Linked DNA regions of Homo sapiens: region 1 is linked to region 2. The links come from fine-mapping of genetic effects on gene expression. Tissue or cell type: cerebellum. Region 2 holds a variant in brackets; the other region holds the start of a gene. All regions are shown on one strand. Distances are between the middles of the regions.

Region 1 (8,000 bases), 36 kb before region 2:
AGCCTCCAGATGGGCACGAACAAGTGTGCCAGCCAGGTGGGGCTCGCCCGGGTGCCCCCGACTCCTCTCCCTGCCCCTCTACACCCTGTGGTCTCGGCCCCTCCCTGGGGCCACCTCCAGCTTCTCTCCCCACTCTCAGTCTCAGCCCCTTCCCTAGACCACCTCCGGCTTCCCTCCCCGCTCTCTGTCTCCGCCTTGGATTTCAGCCTCTGTCATTTCCACCTGGCTGTGGGTCTCTAGGGAAGTTACTACCTCACCCTGTGTCATTTTCCCTTAAGGACTGCCCAAAGGTCCACCCAATTCTTTTTTTTTAATCTTTATTTATTTTATTTATGTATTTATTTTGAGATAGGATCTCACTCTGTTGTCCAGGCTGGAGTGCAGTGGCACGATCTCGGCTCACTGCAACCTCTGCCTCCCGGGTTCAAGAGATTCTCCTTCCTGCCTCAGCCTCCCGAGTAGCTGGGACTACAGGTGCATGCTGCCACACCCGGCCAATTTTTGTATTTTTAGTAGACATGGGGTTTCACCATGTTGCCCAGGCTGGTCTCGAACTCCTGAGCTCAGGCAATCCACCCGCCTTGACCTCCCAAACTGCTAGGGTTACAGGTGTGAGCCACCGCACCCGGCCACACCCAGCTAATTTTTGTATTTTTAGTAGAGACGGGGTTTCACTGTGTTGGTCAGGCTAGTCTTGAACTCCTGACCTCAGGTGATCCTCCCACCTCAGCCTCCCGAGTAGCTGAGACTACAGGCGCCCGCCACCACGCCCGGCTAATTTTTGTATTTTTAGTAGATATGGGGTTTCACCGTGTTGGCCAGGCTGGTCTTGAACTTCTGACCTCAGGTGATCCTCCCACCTCAGCCTCCCGAGTAGCTGGGATTACAGGCATGTGCCACCACGCCCAGCTAATTTTGTATTTTTGGGAGAGACAGGGTTTCACCGTGTTGGCCAGGCTGGACTGGAACTCCTGACCTCAGGTGATCCTCCCACCTTGGCCTCCCAAAGTGCTGGGATTACAGGCGTGAGCCAGTGCACCCAGTGAAGGTCCCCTCTTCTCTCCACCATGACCTGCTCCACCCCTCCTTCCTCTCCAGGTGGGCATGACGGCTCCCGGGACCCGGCGGCACATCTATGATACCAAGCTGGGAACCGACAAGTGTGACAACTCCTCCATGTCCCTGCAGATGGGCTACACGCAGGGCGCCAACCAGAGCGGCCAGGTCTTCGGCCTGGGCCGGCAGATATATGACCCCAAGTACTGCCCGCAAGGCACAGTGGCCGATGGGGCTCCCTCGGGCACCGGCGACTGCCCGGACCCGGGGGAGGTCCCTGAATATCCCCCTTACTACCAGGAGGAGGCCGGCTACTGAGGCTCCCAGCACGCTCTCTCCCCACATCGTCTGCCCATCTGGGTTTTTGGGTTTTTCTGTGTTTTCATCTTTTTTTTTTTTTTCTTAACCCGTTCAGTGCTGCCAGTCAACCAAGGGTCTGTGAGTGTCAGCGTGGGATCAGGCAGCAGAGCTTTTTTCCCCTTTGCCTTGATCCTTCGCAAGGCTGAGCCACTGGGCTGTGGGGGAAGGGGTCAAGGCCATATCCCAATACGTGTAGGGCGAGGGTCCCTGCTGGCACATTCAGGCTGTGCTGGGAAGAAGAGACCTGGGCTTGGAAGGAACCGGTCCCCGACGGTTTCTGCTTGCCTCGCCTCTTCCCCCTTTTGTCAGCTGAGCAGTTTGTGGTTTCTATGCCCGCAAGTTTCAGGAAGTATTCACAAAAGAAAAATACATTTTTTCCCCCAGGGGTGGGGCAAGGACAGTGGAGAGAGTGCTAGGAAATGAGTCCCCTGGGAAAGGGGACCGGGCCGTGATGTTAAATATCTCCGGCTCCCAAGTGACTGGATTTGCCTAGGACCTTCAGACCAACAGACTTCAGACCCTCAGACCTGCCCCGGGGCCAGGTGGAGAAAGTGAGGGCCGTACAAGGAAGTGAAATTCTGAGTTGTTGGGGCTAAGCCTGACCCCCTCTCCATGCTCCCCGCCCCAACCCACTCTGGCCTCAGTAGATTTTTTTTTCAGTTGTGGTTGTTGCCCAGGCTGGAGTGCAGTGGCGCCATCTTGGCTCACTGCACCTCCACCTTCCGGGCTCAAGCGATTCTCCAGCCTCAGCCTCCTGAGTAGCTAGGACTGCAGGTGCTCCACCACGCCCGGCTAATTTTTGTATTTTTAGTAGAGATGGGGTTTCCCCATGTTGGCCAGGCTGGTCTCGAACTCCTGGCCTCAGGTGTGATCCGCCCGCCTCCGCCTCCCCAAGCGCTGAGATTACAGGTGTGAGCCACCGTGCCCAGCCCCTCAGTAGGTTTTAAGGAGCCCCCAGCCCTCCTCCCTTCTGGGCCCGACCAGCTTATACTGCTCCATCTTCCCCGGCCACATGCCCCGCCAAGTACTGCACAGGGACCCCCCACCCAGGGGACCTGCTCCGTGAGATAATGTGAAATACGACTGTGGACCAAACGCAATAAAACCTCTGTTTGTACGAAGAGAAGGTGGCCAAGAGAGTTGGCGTCGATGAGGGCGTGCTTTGCTTTGATGCTTTTGTGGGGAGAGAGGAGGTCTTGGGGGATGGGGGGATCAAGGGGAAAATGTCCACCTCACCATTGGGAGGAGGAGCAAAAGCTGAAGCCACAGGTGAGTCTGGGTGGAATGAATGATTTGAAGGGCCGGGACTTGGGGTAGAGGGAGAGGCTGGGCTTCCTGGCCATTTGGAGAAGAGGCAGTTCCCTCAAATGCCCCCCATGCGCTTTGGCTGCACTCTACCTTACAGCGCAAGTCTCGTGGCCTCAGCCTGGATGTCTCCCCGTTGGCGAACTCCTATTTATCCTCAAAGCCCCAACGGCAATGCCACCTCCTGCCGCGGGAGCCGTCCCCACGCCTCTCACTCTCCCCAGCGCCTTCAAAGCTGTGGACCCACACGCTCCCATTTCAGCTTCACCTCCAGCCTGAAGAGTTTATTTCAACTCTTCTTCCAGAGTGGGAAACGGGTTTTCCTCAAAATCAGGGTAGCCACTATAATCGGAGACTCTAGAATGTTGGCCCCCTCCCCCTCCTGCCATCCTCTGCAGAAGCCGAGGAGCGTTCGTGGAATGAATGAATGAACGAATGATCTAGTGGAACCCCTACTTTACAGACGGACGAGTGTAGTCCCAGAGTCTGGACTAAACTAGAGGGAGCCTGGCCAGCCCCGGGGACAGCGGGGACAGAGGGAACTCCTGCAATTCGGAGCTGCGGTATTGCAGCCGGTTATACAACGTGGGGAGGCAGCCTGGCTCCCCAAAGACAGCGCAGCCTCGTTCCCGGAGGGCGGCCTGCCTGGGACCTGCCGGGCACTCCGCCACCCTACGGTGATGCAGCAAGAGCCGCGCGGTCCCTTTAAGAAACCCGGCTAGGCGAGGCCCTTCTGTGATCCCGTCTCCTCCCTTGGCCCGCGCAGCTCCGACGGAGCAGGCCAGTGAGTGACGGGCAGGTCGCCCAATAGCAGCGTGCAGAGGCAGGGGCGTGCCCCGGCGCTGCTACCTGCGCGGGCAAGCTCAGCGCACTTGGCTTAAGGGGCGGCGCGCTCCCTGCCTGCTGCTGGGCGGAGGGAAGGCGGCAAGAGCTGCGGAGCCCCTGGAAGGTGAGAAGGACTCGGAGAGGGAAGAAGGCCCGAGACTCGAGAATGCGGGGTTGGGGCCGGGAGGGATGCAAGTTCCCTGGGAATTAGGGGGTCCAGCCTCTGACCTCCTTCCGGTGAATGTTGACGACGGCTGAATTGATCACTGATTCTCAAGGGGGGCATCGGACATCTGGGACCCTTAAGAGGGCCTTTGCCGATCACACACCTGCAGCCCCCTGCCCGTTAGAACTCCTGCACTCCCCCTTGCCCCGTCTTACAAATGGAGAAACTGAGCCCACTCCCCCAGATCCTAAGTCCCGCTTGATGTAAAGGAAAGAACCCTGGCGTAAGGGTCTGGGTCTGAGGTCCCAGTTCCGGCCTGGTCACCTTTAGCAACTTCCTGCCCCTCTGTCAGCGTCAGATTCTCCATCTGTGTCAGAGGTGGACCGGCCCAAGGAAAATAGATCAGGAATCGCTGACTCCAGGAGTCTCTATCCCAGCCCCTTCGCCTGACTCTTTCTCTGGCTCCCGCGGTCCCTCTGAGCGATTAATGCTACATAAGGTGTGGGCAGAGCTGGGGTCGTGCCTCCAGCTGGGCAACTGCCTGTCTCTCTGGGTGCCTGGGTTTGCTTTCTTGGGCCTCGGTTTCCACTTCTGTAGAGTGGGGTGATAGTCCAGCACTTCCCCTGGGCGTGTGAAATGTCCAGCACTGCCAATATTCGTTGCTGTTATCTTCGGAGAACAGTGAGGGGAAAGGAATCCTTGCCTGGGCTGGGCCAGGCAGGAGGCTGGGGGTCAGGACCTGGAAGAGGCTTCCAGGTGAGGCTTGGGGTGGAGCCTGGTGACGAAAGCGTTAAGCCCAAACTCGGTCCCTGGAGGATTAGAGGATGATCTTTAAGTCCCCAGCTGTCAGCCCTGCTCAGAGCGACAGTCCTGGCAGCCAATCAGATGCGAGGACGGCTGCGGGTTGCGCTCCCATTGGTTTACTCCACCCCTGGGGTAGCGGAGCCTCTTTATCGAGTGACTACTGTTTGCCTCGCTCTAATCAGAGCTTCCAGGAACCCTGCGCTGTGGGATAAAGGAATGAGGTTCAGAAAGGGGCAGGGAGTTGCCCGCAGCCGCACCGCACGTCTTCAGCCCGACCGTTGTCCTGACCTCTCTGTCCCGTCCCCTGCCCAGTCTCACCATGGCCTTCTGGACACAGCTGATGCTGCTGCTCTGGAAGAATTTCATGTATCGCCGGAGACAGCCGGTAACGCCCCAGTGTGAGACCAGGGCCGGGTGGGCAGGCAGCCCCCACTGTCCCCCACCGTCTCCCACCTATTCTCCCCCAGGTCCAGCTCCTGGTCGAATTGCTGTGGCCTCTCTTCCTCTTCTTCATCCTGGTGGCTGTTCGCCACTCCCACCCGCCCCTGGAGCACCATGAATGTGAGCCCCCCCAGGGACCAGGCACTTTGTGTGTGTAGGGGAAGGCAGATGGCTCACCCGTGCACAGGAATCCCCCGTGCATGTCAGGGAGCCTTCACCAGGCCGCCAATACATGGCATGGGAGTGAGCTCTCCATCGCTGGAGGCATGCAAGCGGTGCCGGGCGACCCGATGGGGGTGGAGTCAGGCAGAGTCCACAGGGCCTCAGCACCAGGCGTCTCCCCGCAGGCCACTTCCCAAACAAGCCACTGCCATCGGCGGGCACCGTGCCCTGGCTCCAGGGTCTCATCTGTAATGTGAACAACACCTGCTTTCCGCAGCTGACACCGGGCGAGGAGCCCGGGCGCCTGAGCAACTTCAACGACTCCCTGTGAGCCAGAGGCAGTGGGTGCGGCCGGCCTGCAAACTCGGGGCTGCAGTGCCGGCCGGAACCCCGCCTCCTGCCCTCTCTCTGTCCCCAGGGTCTCCCGGCTGCTAGCCGATGCCCGCACTGTGCTGGGAGGGGCCAGTGCCCACAGGACGCTGGCTGGCCTAGGGAAGCTGATCGCCACGCTGAGGGCTGCACGCAGCACGGGTGAGGAGGCCGGGGGGCCTCTGGCAGGGCTGAGCTCTGAGCCTCAACTTGCCGGGCCGTGAAATGGGCACAGGGTGGGGGTGGGTGCCTCAGACCAACGTCCCCCCAGCCCCATGCTCCCGTGCGCTCCTCCCCCAGCCCAGCCTCAACCAACCAAGCAGTCTCCACTGGAACCACCCATGCTGGATGTCGCGGAGCTGCTGACGTCACTGCTGCGCACGGTAGGGTGTCGGGGCGGGACCGCGCTGACTTCCTGGGACACTGCACTGGGGATGTCCTGGCACTGCCCCACCCCGGGCCAAGGACCTCCCGTTCCAGGCATCCAGGCTGTCCCTGGTCTCTGCGGTGATGCTGCTTGTCCGTCTGGGCCCCCAGACAGAGTGTGTCTGACCCAGTGAGGAAGACTCGTCTGTGAGATCTCCAATGAGTCCCTTTGCCTCTCAGAGCCTCAGTTTCCCTATTTGTAAAGTGGGGGCTATGATAGTATGGTCTGCCTGGGAACTGGCCAGAGCGCTGGACCCCTAGTGAGTGTTCAAAATCATTGTCCCCCTTGTGGTCTTTCTCCCCAGGAATCCCTGGGGTTGGCACTGGGCCAAGCCCAGGAGCCCTTGCACAGCTTGTTGGAGGCCGCTGAGGACCTGGCCCAGGAGGTACGAGGCCCCACTCATCCTCAACCCCCATGGAGGCAACGTTGGCAGGCAGCCTGCGCCGGGAGGGTCTGGGGCAGCCCGGGCACTTCCCTTGGGTGGGTTTTCAGGAGGATTAGACAGCGAGAGGGAGAGGCTGCCCCTGGCCCAGTGCCCTGCCCTGGTTAGGGCTTGGAGGTGGGATCATTGCCAGCTCCGTCTGGTAACCTCTCTCTAGCTCCTGGCGCTGCGCAGCCTGGTGGAGCTTCGGGCACTGCTGCAGAGACCCCGAGGGACCAGCGGCCCCCTGGAGTTGCTGTCAGAGGCCCTCTGCAGTGTCAGGGGACCTAGCAGCACAGTGGGCCCCTCCCTCAACTGGTACGAGGCTAGTGACCTGATGGAGCTGGTGGGGCAGGAGCCAGAATCCGCCCTGCCAGACAGCAGCCTGAGTGAGTGACTGACCTCGGTTTCCCCTCTTGGGAAGTGGAACTCTGGGCAGGGGGGCAGGGCCTCATGGCACCCCCATCCCAGGCCCCGCCTGCTCGGAGCTGATTGGAGCCCTGGACAGCCACCCGCTGTCCCGCCTGCTCTGGAGACGCCTGAAGCCTCTGATCCTCGGGAAGCTACTCTTTGCACCAGATACACCTTTTACCCGGAAGCTCATGGCCCAGGTGGGGGCAGCCTGGATGCTGGGGTGGGAGGGTGGTGGCCAGAGCCCATCCAGTACCCTCAGTCCAGGTGGGCCAGGGCCAGGCCGGAGGGTCACGGAAACTATTTGAAGAAGTAGGAGTTAGCCGATGGAGGGGGATCAGCTTGTGCGGAGGATCAGAGGCACACGCAGGAGCAAGGCAGAGGGGGCAGGGGGTGGGCAGGGGTCCTCAGAGGAGGAGAGGGTCATCAGTGGAGGGGGTGCTGTCCACAGGTGAACCGGACCTTCGAGGAGCTCACCCTGCTGAGGGATGTCCGGGAGGTGTGGGAGATGCTGGGACCCCGGATCTTCACCTTCATGAACGACAGTTCCAATGTGGCCATGCTGCAGGTGTGCGGGGGTGCTGGGGAGGTGGGATGTGGCTCCCCGGTGAGGAGGGTAGACAGGCCCGGTGGATGGGAAGGTGGGCTCCGTGCAGACCCCCACTTTTTTTTTTTTTTTTTTGAGATGGAGTCTCGCTCTGTCGCCCAAGCTGGAATGCAGTGGCGTGATCTCGACTCACTGCAACCTCCACCTCCCGGGTTCAAGCGATTCTCCTGTCTCACCCTCTGAGTAGCTGGGACTACAGGCGCCCACCACCACGCCCGGATGATTTTTTTTTTTTATTTTTAGTAGAGACGGGGTTTAACCATGTTAGCCAGGATGGTCTCGATCTCCTGACCTCGTGATCCACCCGCCTCGGCCTCCCAAAGTGCTGGGATTACAGGCGTGAACTACCACGTCCTGCTTTTTTTTTTTTTTTTTTTTTTTTTAAGAGATGGAGTCTCACTCTGTTGCCCAGGCTGGACTGCAGTGGCGAGATCTTGGCTCACTGCAACCTCCGCCTCCTGGATTCAAGCAATTCTCCTGCTTCAGCCTCACAAGTAACTGGGATTACAGGCATGCGCCACCACTCCCGGCTACTTTTTGTATTTTTAGTAGAGATGGGCTTTCACCATGTTGGCCAGGCTGGTCTCGAACTCCTGACCTCAGGTGATCCACCCGCCTCGCCTCCCAAAGTGCTGGGATTACAGGC
Region 2 (8,000 bases):
CGCCTTCAGAGCTAGCGTAGATGGAAAAGCTGTGTGATTGTTGAGAAATGGCTTCCCCTCTCTATGCCTCAGTTTCCTCACTTAGGAAGGGCAGAGAGAGACCTGGACAGGGCTTTGAGCAGTCCTGAGGAGTTAGGGCAGGGAAGGAGCCTGGTGGGCTGCATGGAGGAAGGGGCTGCAGGACTGTAGCTTGAAGGACAAGAGGCAGTTTGCTTTCTGGAGGGACAAGAAAAGAGTGTTCTGAGCAGCAGAGTGCCTAGGCCAACGTCTGGCCTTTGTTGATCTGGCCGGTAGCCCAGGGAGGGACAGTGCCCTCCCCGCGGTCTCGAAATGAGCCCCAGGCATCTGCCGTCTTCCACCTCTGCCTCAGTTTCCCCATCTGGGAACAGGAGCTCTAAAGAGGGAGGAGGTGGACAGACTTTCCCTGGGACTGGGCCCTACCCCACTGCTCACTCCGACTCTCCCCAGCAGACCTCCTTGAGGCCCGCCGCCCGCGGGCCCACGAGTGCCTGGGTGAGGCTCTGCGTGTCATGCATCAGATCATCTCCAAGTACCCGCTGCTGAACACCGTGGAGACGCTCACCGCAGCCGGCACCCTCATTGCCAAGGTCAAAGGTCAGCCTGCTGGAACAGGGCTGCGAGGGCTCTCTGCCTAGAAGGGCATCCTGGAGGAGGGGATGTTTGAAGTGGGTTTTGAAGGATGCATAGGAGTTTGACAGGCACAAGCTCCCTCCTGTTCCCCCTGGGTTAAGGGCTCCGGTCAGTTCTTGCAGGGATGGTCACCTCCCAGAGTGGGCCCACCTCCTTGTCCTTATCTCTGCTTCCCAGCCTTCCATTATGAGAGCAACAATGATCTGGAGAAACAGGAGTTCGAGAAGGCCCTGGAGACGATTGCTGTGGCCTTCAGTAGCACGTGAGCACGGGAGCCTGTGGGGCAGGGCAAGGGAGCGTGGGGGGCCCGGGTGTCTCTCGATGGTGACCTCGCTGGCCCTGCAGAGTGTCCGAGTTCCTCATGGGTGAAGTGGACAGCAGCACCCTCCTAGCAGTGCCTCCTGGGGACTCGAGCCAGGTGAGTGGGGTGGGCCAGGGCCACCTGTGTCCAGCTTCTGGAGGCCAGCCGGGTTCAGGTCTGCAGGGCCCAGACAGTCACCCTGCTTCCCCTGTGCGCCTTGGTTTCCCTCTCTGGGGGAGGCAGCAACCGTCCCCTGAAGGGTGGGCACTGCCCAGGGCCCCGCATGGGGCTGGTCTCACCTGCGTCTCCGTCCTACAGTCCATGGAAAGCCTGTATGGACCGGGCAGTGAGGGCACGCCTCCCAGCCTGGAAGACTGTGACGCCGGTAAGCCCCCACCCAGCGGCAGGCAGGCATTTGAGGGGTGGGCCATTGCGCGGGTCGGGCCAGGCTGAGCAGGCCCCCGTTCCCTGCAGGCTGCCTGCCCGCCGAGGAGGTGGACGTGCTGCTACAGCGCTGTGAGGGGGGCGTGGATGCCGCACTGCTGTATGCCAAGAACATGGCCAAGTACATGAAGGACCTCATCAGCTACCTGGAGAAGCGGACGACGCTGGGTGAGAGCTGGTGTCCCAGCAGGGTGGGTCTGGAGGGAGGGGGTTCTGGGTGAGCTGGGAAGGCCTTGTCCCAGCACCTCACACCCCTCTCCGGCCCGCAGAGATGGAGTTTGCCAAGGGCCTGCAGAAGATCGCTCACAACTGCAGACAGAGCGTCATGCAGGAGGTGGGGGCCCCGCGGGCACGGGGCGGGGGTCCCTGGGCCCGGGTGTGAGTCTCAGCCCCATTTCAAGGGCCCAGGGACCAAGAGCAGGGGCTTCCCCTCTACATTAACGGGGGTGGCTGCAGGGACCAGGGAGCTGGTGGCTGGGGGTGCTGGGGCCGCCCTGCCTCCATCCCTCCCCACCCAGTGAGCCGGTGCCCCACCCACAGCCCCACATGCCGCTCCTGTCCATCTACTCGCTGGCCCTGGAGCAGGACCTGGAGTTCGGCCACAGCATGGTGCAGGCGGTGGGCACCTTGCAGACCCAGACCTTCATGCAGGTGCGTGGTGCCCGGGAGGGCGGGCTGGGCGGGGGTGTCACCGGGGTACCCACTCACGGCCCGTCTCGCCCCAGCCCCTGACCCTGCGGCGGCTTGAACACGAGAAGCGCAGGAAGGAGATCAAGGAGGCCTGGCACCGTGCCCAGAGGAAGCTGGTGAGGCGGGCGGGCGGGGGCGGGCGGGGGCGGGCAGCGGGCCTCGGCGCAGGCGCAGTCCCAGCCCCAGCCCCATAGCGAGGGCCCTGCGGCGAGCTCCGCACACGCCCCGGCCTCCTGCGCATGCGCGGCCTCGCAGGCTGGGCCGCCCCCCCCAACGCCAAGCCGGGTCGGAGATGCTCCAGCCCCGTCGCCCCCAGCTCTGCCTGGAAGGACCCAGGAGCCCGGCGCTCACTGCTGTCCCTGCAGAAATGGGGAGAAGCCGTGCCTCCCTCGGTTGTAAGCAGCTGGTCTCCGGGTTGAGGGAGACTGATGGTCTCTCAGGACTGGGAAAGCGCCATGCTCCTGCATGTATTCTTTTTTTTTTTTTTTTTGATACGGAGTCTCGCTCTGTCGCCCAGGCTGCAGGCTGGAGTGCCATGGCACCATCTAGGCTTTCACTGCAACCTCCATCTCCCTGGTTCAAACAATTCTCCTGTCGCAGCGTCCCGAGTAGCTGGGATTACAGAAGCACGCCACCACACCTGGCTAATTTTTGTATTTTTAGTAGAGACGGGGTTTCACCATAGTGGTCAGGCTGGTCTCGAACTCCTGACCTCAGGTGATCCACCCGCGTCGGCCTCCCAAAGTGCTGAGATTACAGACGTGAGCCACCGCACCCACCCGGCCTCCTGCCTGTATTCTCTTCCCACTTCGCTTTTGGGTTATTTCAAAGACGCCGGCGCCTTTTTGTTTGTTTCTTTGCTTGTTTTGAGATAAGGTCTCGCTCTGTCACCCAGGCTGGACTGCAGTGACGCAATCATACCTCACTGCAGACTTGCCTTCTTGGGCTGCAATGATCCTCCCACCTCAGCCTCCTGAGTTCCTGGGTCTACAGGCACCAGCCATCACACCCAGTTCATTTTTTTGTATTTTTTGTATACTCACTATGTTGCCCAGTTTTTGTTTGCTTTTTAGCTGTGTTAACACGGTCTGCAGTGAAACGCACCCTCCTAGCTCCTTCCAGCACATACCGGCAAACACATATCTGCCCTGTTTTGTACACACGAGGACAGCTCACCTCATGCCCTGTTCTGCTCCTGATTTTTATCCTCACCTCCATATAGAGAGGCTCACCCGATATCAGTCAGCATGAAGCAGCCTGAA[C/A]CCCTTTTTTCGGCTGTGCAGGGCTCAGCTGAGGAGATTGAGTAGGTTATTTCATGGACGTCTTGGGAGTGGCTGAGCTGTTGCTGTTACGAACACCATTGCTATGACAAGCTTGTGCCCCTGTCTCAAGGATGCCTGAGGGATCAGTGCCCAAAATAGAACTGCTGGGTCAAGGGGCGTGCGTGTATGAGCTACCCTCCCAGGCCACAGCCCTGCTTTTCCTCTTCTGTGAACCCTCAGTTCTTAACCTTTGCTTAGTTCTTATCCTTTGCTTACTTTGTACTGGACAGTGGCTTATCATTGATTTGTCAGAGCTTTTTACATATTAGAGAACTTAGGCCTTAATCATGTGAGTTTTAGACTCCCCCCATTCCCCTCCCACAATTTACTGTTTGACTTTTGATTTTTACCTGTGGCCTATTTTGCCAGGTAGAAACCTGTGATTGTTGGCAGTAGTCTTTTTTTTTTTTTTTTTTTTTTTTTTTTTTGAGACAAGAGCCTCACTCTGTTGCCCAGGCTGCAGTGCAGTGGATCGATCTCAGCTCACTGCAACCTCCATCTCCTGGGCTCAAGCGATTCTTCTGCCTCAGCCTCCCAAGTAGCTGGGATTACAGGCGCCAGCCAACATGCCTGGCTAATTTTTGTATTTTTAGTAGAGATGGGGTTTCACCACCTTGGCCAGGCTGGTCTCGAACTCCTGACCTCAGGTAATCTGCCCACCTTGTCCTTCCAAAGTGCTGGAATTATAGGCATAAGACACCGTGCTTGGCTAATTTTTATATCTTTGGTAGAGATGGGGTTTCATCATGTTGGCCAGGCTGGTCTCGAGTAGCTAGGACCACAGGTGTGCGCCACCACGTCTGGCTAAATTTTTTAATTTTTTTGTAGAGATGGGGTCTCACTATGTTGACCAGGCTGGTCTCAAACTCCTGGCCTCAAGTGATCCTCCTGCCTCGGCCTCCCAAAGCACTGGGAGTACAGGTGTGACCCATGGCGCCTGGCGGTCTCCTAGTAATTGGATGAGTCCGTTTGTTTGTGTGCGAATCTGATGGTGCAGGTTGTGAGGTGTGGCCCCCGAGCCCACAGGTTTTTGACTAAGTGCTCTTCCTGCCAACCTGTGGGCGCCTGGCTTCCTGCCTGGGCGGCTTCTCTGTTCTCGTCTGTGAGGAGGGAAGTGAAAGCAAAAGAGCCCGGAGACGCTCCCGTGGGGGCTGGTGTGCGTGTCTGCAGAGGCTGCCGTGTGAGCCTCTGTGCAGAGCTTGGCTGCACCTCAGCTTCCCGGGCTGCAGAGTGGGCACACAGGACACCCATTTCTCCGAGTGTCCTGTTACGGGTGCCTCCTCCCGTTCTTTTTTTTTTTTTTTTTTTTGAGCTGGAATCTCTGTTGCCCAGGCTGGAGTGCAGTGGTGCATGCAATCTTGGCTCACTGCAACCTTCGCCTCCTGGGTTCAAGCTGTTCGCGATTCTAGTGCCTCAGCCTCCCGAGTAGCTGGGATTACAAGCGTGCACCACAATGCCCGGCTAATTGTTTTAAATTTTGGGTAGATACGGGGTTTCACTATGTTGGCCAGGCTGGTCTCAAACTCCTGACCTCAAGTGATCCACCTGCCTCGGCCTCCCAAAGTGCTGGGATTACAGACGTGAGCCACCGCGCCCGGCCACTCCTCCTGTTTTTCCGCTGCCGATTGTTGTGCAGGGTCCTCTGCATGCCCAGCTGGGCCATGGGGCCTTGCTGAGAGAGATGGGGGTGGGGAGGAAAGGAGGAGCTGGGGAGACTGAGTCCCATCCGAGGATAGGGTTGGAACTGGCCTCCTGGCTCCCACACCCACAGCAAGAGGCGGAGTCCAACCTGCGCAAGGCCAAGCAGGGTTACGTGCAGCGCTGCGAGGACCACGACAAGGCTCGCTTCCTCGTGGCCAAGGCGGAGGAGGAGCAGGCTGGCAGCGCGCCGGGAGCAGGCAGCACGGCCACCAAGACCCTGGACAAGCGGCGGCGGCTGGAGGAGGAGGCCAAGAACAAGGTGAGGGCGGGTGGAGGCAGGGCTGGAGGTCCCTGGAGGAGGAGATCCAATGCTTGGTGTGACATTTACTACCTCCAGACCTTTGTTTTTGTTTTTTTGTTTTTTTGTTTGTTTTTGAGACGGAGTCTTGCTCTGTCGCCCAGGCTGGAGTGCAGTGGCACAGTCTCGGCTCACTGCAAGCTCCGCCTCCCGGGTTCACGCCATTCTCCTGCCTCAGCCTCCCGAGTAGCTGGGACTACAGGCGCCCGCCACCACGCCTGGCTAATTTTTTGTATTTTTAGTAGAGACGGGGTTTCACTGTGTTAGCCAGGATGGTCTCGATCTCCTGACCTCGTGATCCGTCCACCTCGGCCTCCCAAAGTGCTGGGATTATAGGCATGAGCCACTGCGCCCGGCCAATTTGTTTTTTGGAGACAGAGTCTCATTCTGTTGCCCAGGCTGGAGTGCAGTGGTGAGATCTCACTGCAACCTCCGCCTCCCAGGTTCACACAGTTCTCTGCCTCAGCCACCCTGCCACCAAGCCCAGCTAATTTTTTTGTATTTTTAGTAGACACAGAGTTTCACCATCTTGGCCAGGTTGGTCTCAAACTCCTGACCTCATGATCCACCCACTTCGGCCTCCCAAAGTGCTGGGATTACAGGCATGAGCCACCGCGCCCGGCCCCGATTTTTAAATTATTATTATTTTTGAGACAGTGTCTTGTTCTGTCACCCAGGCTGGAGTGCAGTGACGTGATCATGGCTCACTGCAGCCTCTACCTCCTGGGCTCAAGCAATCTTCTCGCCTCAGCCTCTAGAGTAGCTGGGACCACAGGCGTGTGCCGCCACACCCAGCTAATTTAAAAAAATTCTTGGCCGGGCGCAGTGGCTCACGCCTGTAATCCCAGCACTTTGGGAGGCCGAGGCAGGTGGATCACAAGGTCAGGAGATCAAGACCATCCTGGCTAACAGGGTGAAACCCCGTCTCTACTAAAAATACAAAAAATTAGCTGGGCGTAGTGGTGGGCGCCTGTAGTCCCAGCTACTCGGGAGGCTGAGGCAGGAAAATGGCATGAACCCGGGAGGTGGAGCTTGCAGTGAGCCGAGATCGCGCCACTGCACTCCAGCCTGGGCGACAGAACGAGACTCTGTCTCAAAAAAAAAAAAAAATTCTTTATAAAGATGGGGGTCTCAGGCTGAGTGTGGTGGCTCACACCTGTAATCCCAGCCCTTTGGGAGGCTGAGACGGGCAGATCATATGAGGCCAGGAGTTCGAAACCAGCCTGGGCAACATGGTGAAACCCCTGTATCTCTACTAAAATTACAAAAAATTAACCGGGTATGGTGGGTGGGGGGCACCTGTAATCCGTTACTTGGGAGGCTGAGGCAGAATTGCTTGAACCCGGTAGGTGGAGGTTGCAGTGAGCTGAGATCGTACCACTGCACTCCAGCCTGGCCTACAGAGCAAGACTCCATCTCAAAAAAAAAAAAAAAAAGATGGGGAGGGTCTCACCATGTTGCTCAGGCTGGTCTCGAACTCCTGGCCTCAAGCAAGTCTCCCACTGTGGCCTCCCGAGGCGCTGGGATGACAGGCGTCAGCCCCGCCTCCCTGAGGTTTCTGTCTGAGTCCTGCACCCCGGGCTGAGGCCTCTCTCTGTGCGCCCCGCCCCCACCGCAGGCGGAGGAAGCTATGGCCACCTACCGCACCTGCGTGGCCGACGCGAAGACGCAGAAGCAGGAGCTGGAGGATACCAAGGTGACGGCGCTGCGGCAGATCCAGGAGGTCATCCGGCAGAGCGACCAAACCATCAAGTCGGTGCGTGGGGTGCTCCGGCCGCCCGGGCGGGGATGGTGGACCGGGCGGCCTCCTCCTGACCCCTCCGCTCTCCGGTGCCGCCCGCAGGCCACGATCTCCTACTACCAGATGATGCATATGCAGACGGCGCCGCTGCCCGTGCACTTCCAGATGCTGTGTGAGAGCAGCAAGCTGTATGACCCAGGCCAGCAGTACGCCTCCCACGTGCGCCAGCTGCAGCGGGACCAGGAGCCCGATGTGCACTACGACTTTGAGCCCCACGTCTCCGCCAACGCCTGGTACCGCCACCCAGCTGCCCTGTCCCCGGCGCACAAGGCCCTGCCTGGGAGCCGGGCTTCCCTCTGTCGGGGGCATGAAGATGAAGCTGTCTTGCCCCCCATCACCTCCCCTCCTTTTCCCGGTTTCTTCCACTAGGTCCCCCGTCATGCGTGCCCGGAAGAGCAGCTTCAACGTGAGTGATGTGGCGCGGCCGGAGGCTGCCGGGAGCCCCCCAGAAGAAGGCGGGTGCACTGAGGGCACACCTGCCAAGGACCACAGGGGTGAGTGTCCGGCGGGGCCCAGGGGCGGACGCTGGCTCCCTGCGACCCACCCTGGCCCTTCACCAGAGACGCCTCTTTCTCCAGCCGGGCGAGGACACCAGGTTCACAAGTCATGGCCGCTCTCGATCTCAGACTCGGACAGTGGGCTGGACCCCGGCCCTGGCGCAGGTGAGGGAGGCTCTCTGGCGGGCTGGGGTGTGGAGCTGCCTCCTCTCCTGAGCCTCAGGGTTTCATCACCCACCGGGGTGATGGAGGGGGCCCCCCTGGCTGGGGGAGTCTGAACAGTCCTGATTCCCGC

The links. PIP is the estimated chance that this variant, and not a neighbour inherited with it, causes the effect.
Region 1: ABCA7 starts here. The variant in region 2 is fine-mapped to the expression of ABCA7 in cerebellum (GTEx, PIP 0.94).

What each region holds. Positions count from the first base shown.
Region 1 is chr19:1,036,527-1,044,526 of GRCh38, forward strand. ABCA7 (ATP binding cassette subfamily A member 7) reads left to right here and starts at 3,581. Exons shown (of 47, transcript NM_019112.4): 1 at 3,581-3,670; 2 at 4,699-4,901; 3 at 4,984-5,077; 4 at 5,305-5,446; 5 at 5,538-5,650; 6 at 5,789-5,871; 7 at 6,220-6,300; 8 at 6,515-6,725; 9 at 6,808-6,947; 10 at 7,199-7,315. The coding sequence starts at 4,836. CNN2 (calponin 2) reads left to right here. Exons shown (of 7, transcript NM_004368.4): 6 at 1-36; 7 at 1,099-2,539. The coding sequence ends at 1,374. RefSeq lists enhancers at 1,587-2,146, 1,734-2,235, 2,236-2,735, 4,628-5,425 and a silencer at 4,577-4,716.
Region 2 is chr19:1,072,678-1,080,677 of GRCh38, forward strand. It overlaps ARHGAP45 (Rho GTPase activating protein 45), which reads left to right. Exons shown (of 23, transcript NM_012292.5): 3 at 472-615; 4 at 829-913; 5 at 997-1,069; 6 at 1,271-1,337; 7 at 1,427-1,564; 8 at 1,666-1,730; 9 at 1,937-2,047; 10 at 2,122-2,202; 11 at 5,180-5,368; 12 at 7,026-7,163; 13 at 7,251-7,441; 14 at 7,578-7,702; 15 at 7,787-7,870. Among named protein-coding and RNA genes, the nearest start is that of ARHGAP45, 9.5 kb to the left of the region's middle. RefSeq lists silencers at 1,772-1,881, 1,892-2,421, 4,769-4,858 and enhancers at 2,793-3,087, 4,459-4,598. The variant C/A (reference allele first, on the strand shown) is at 3,349.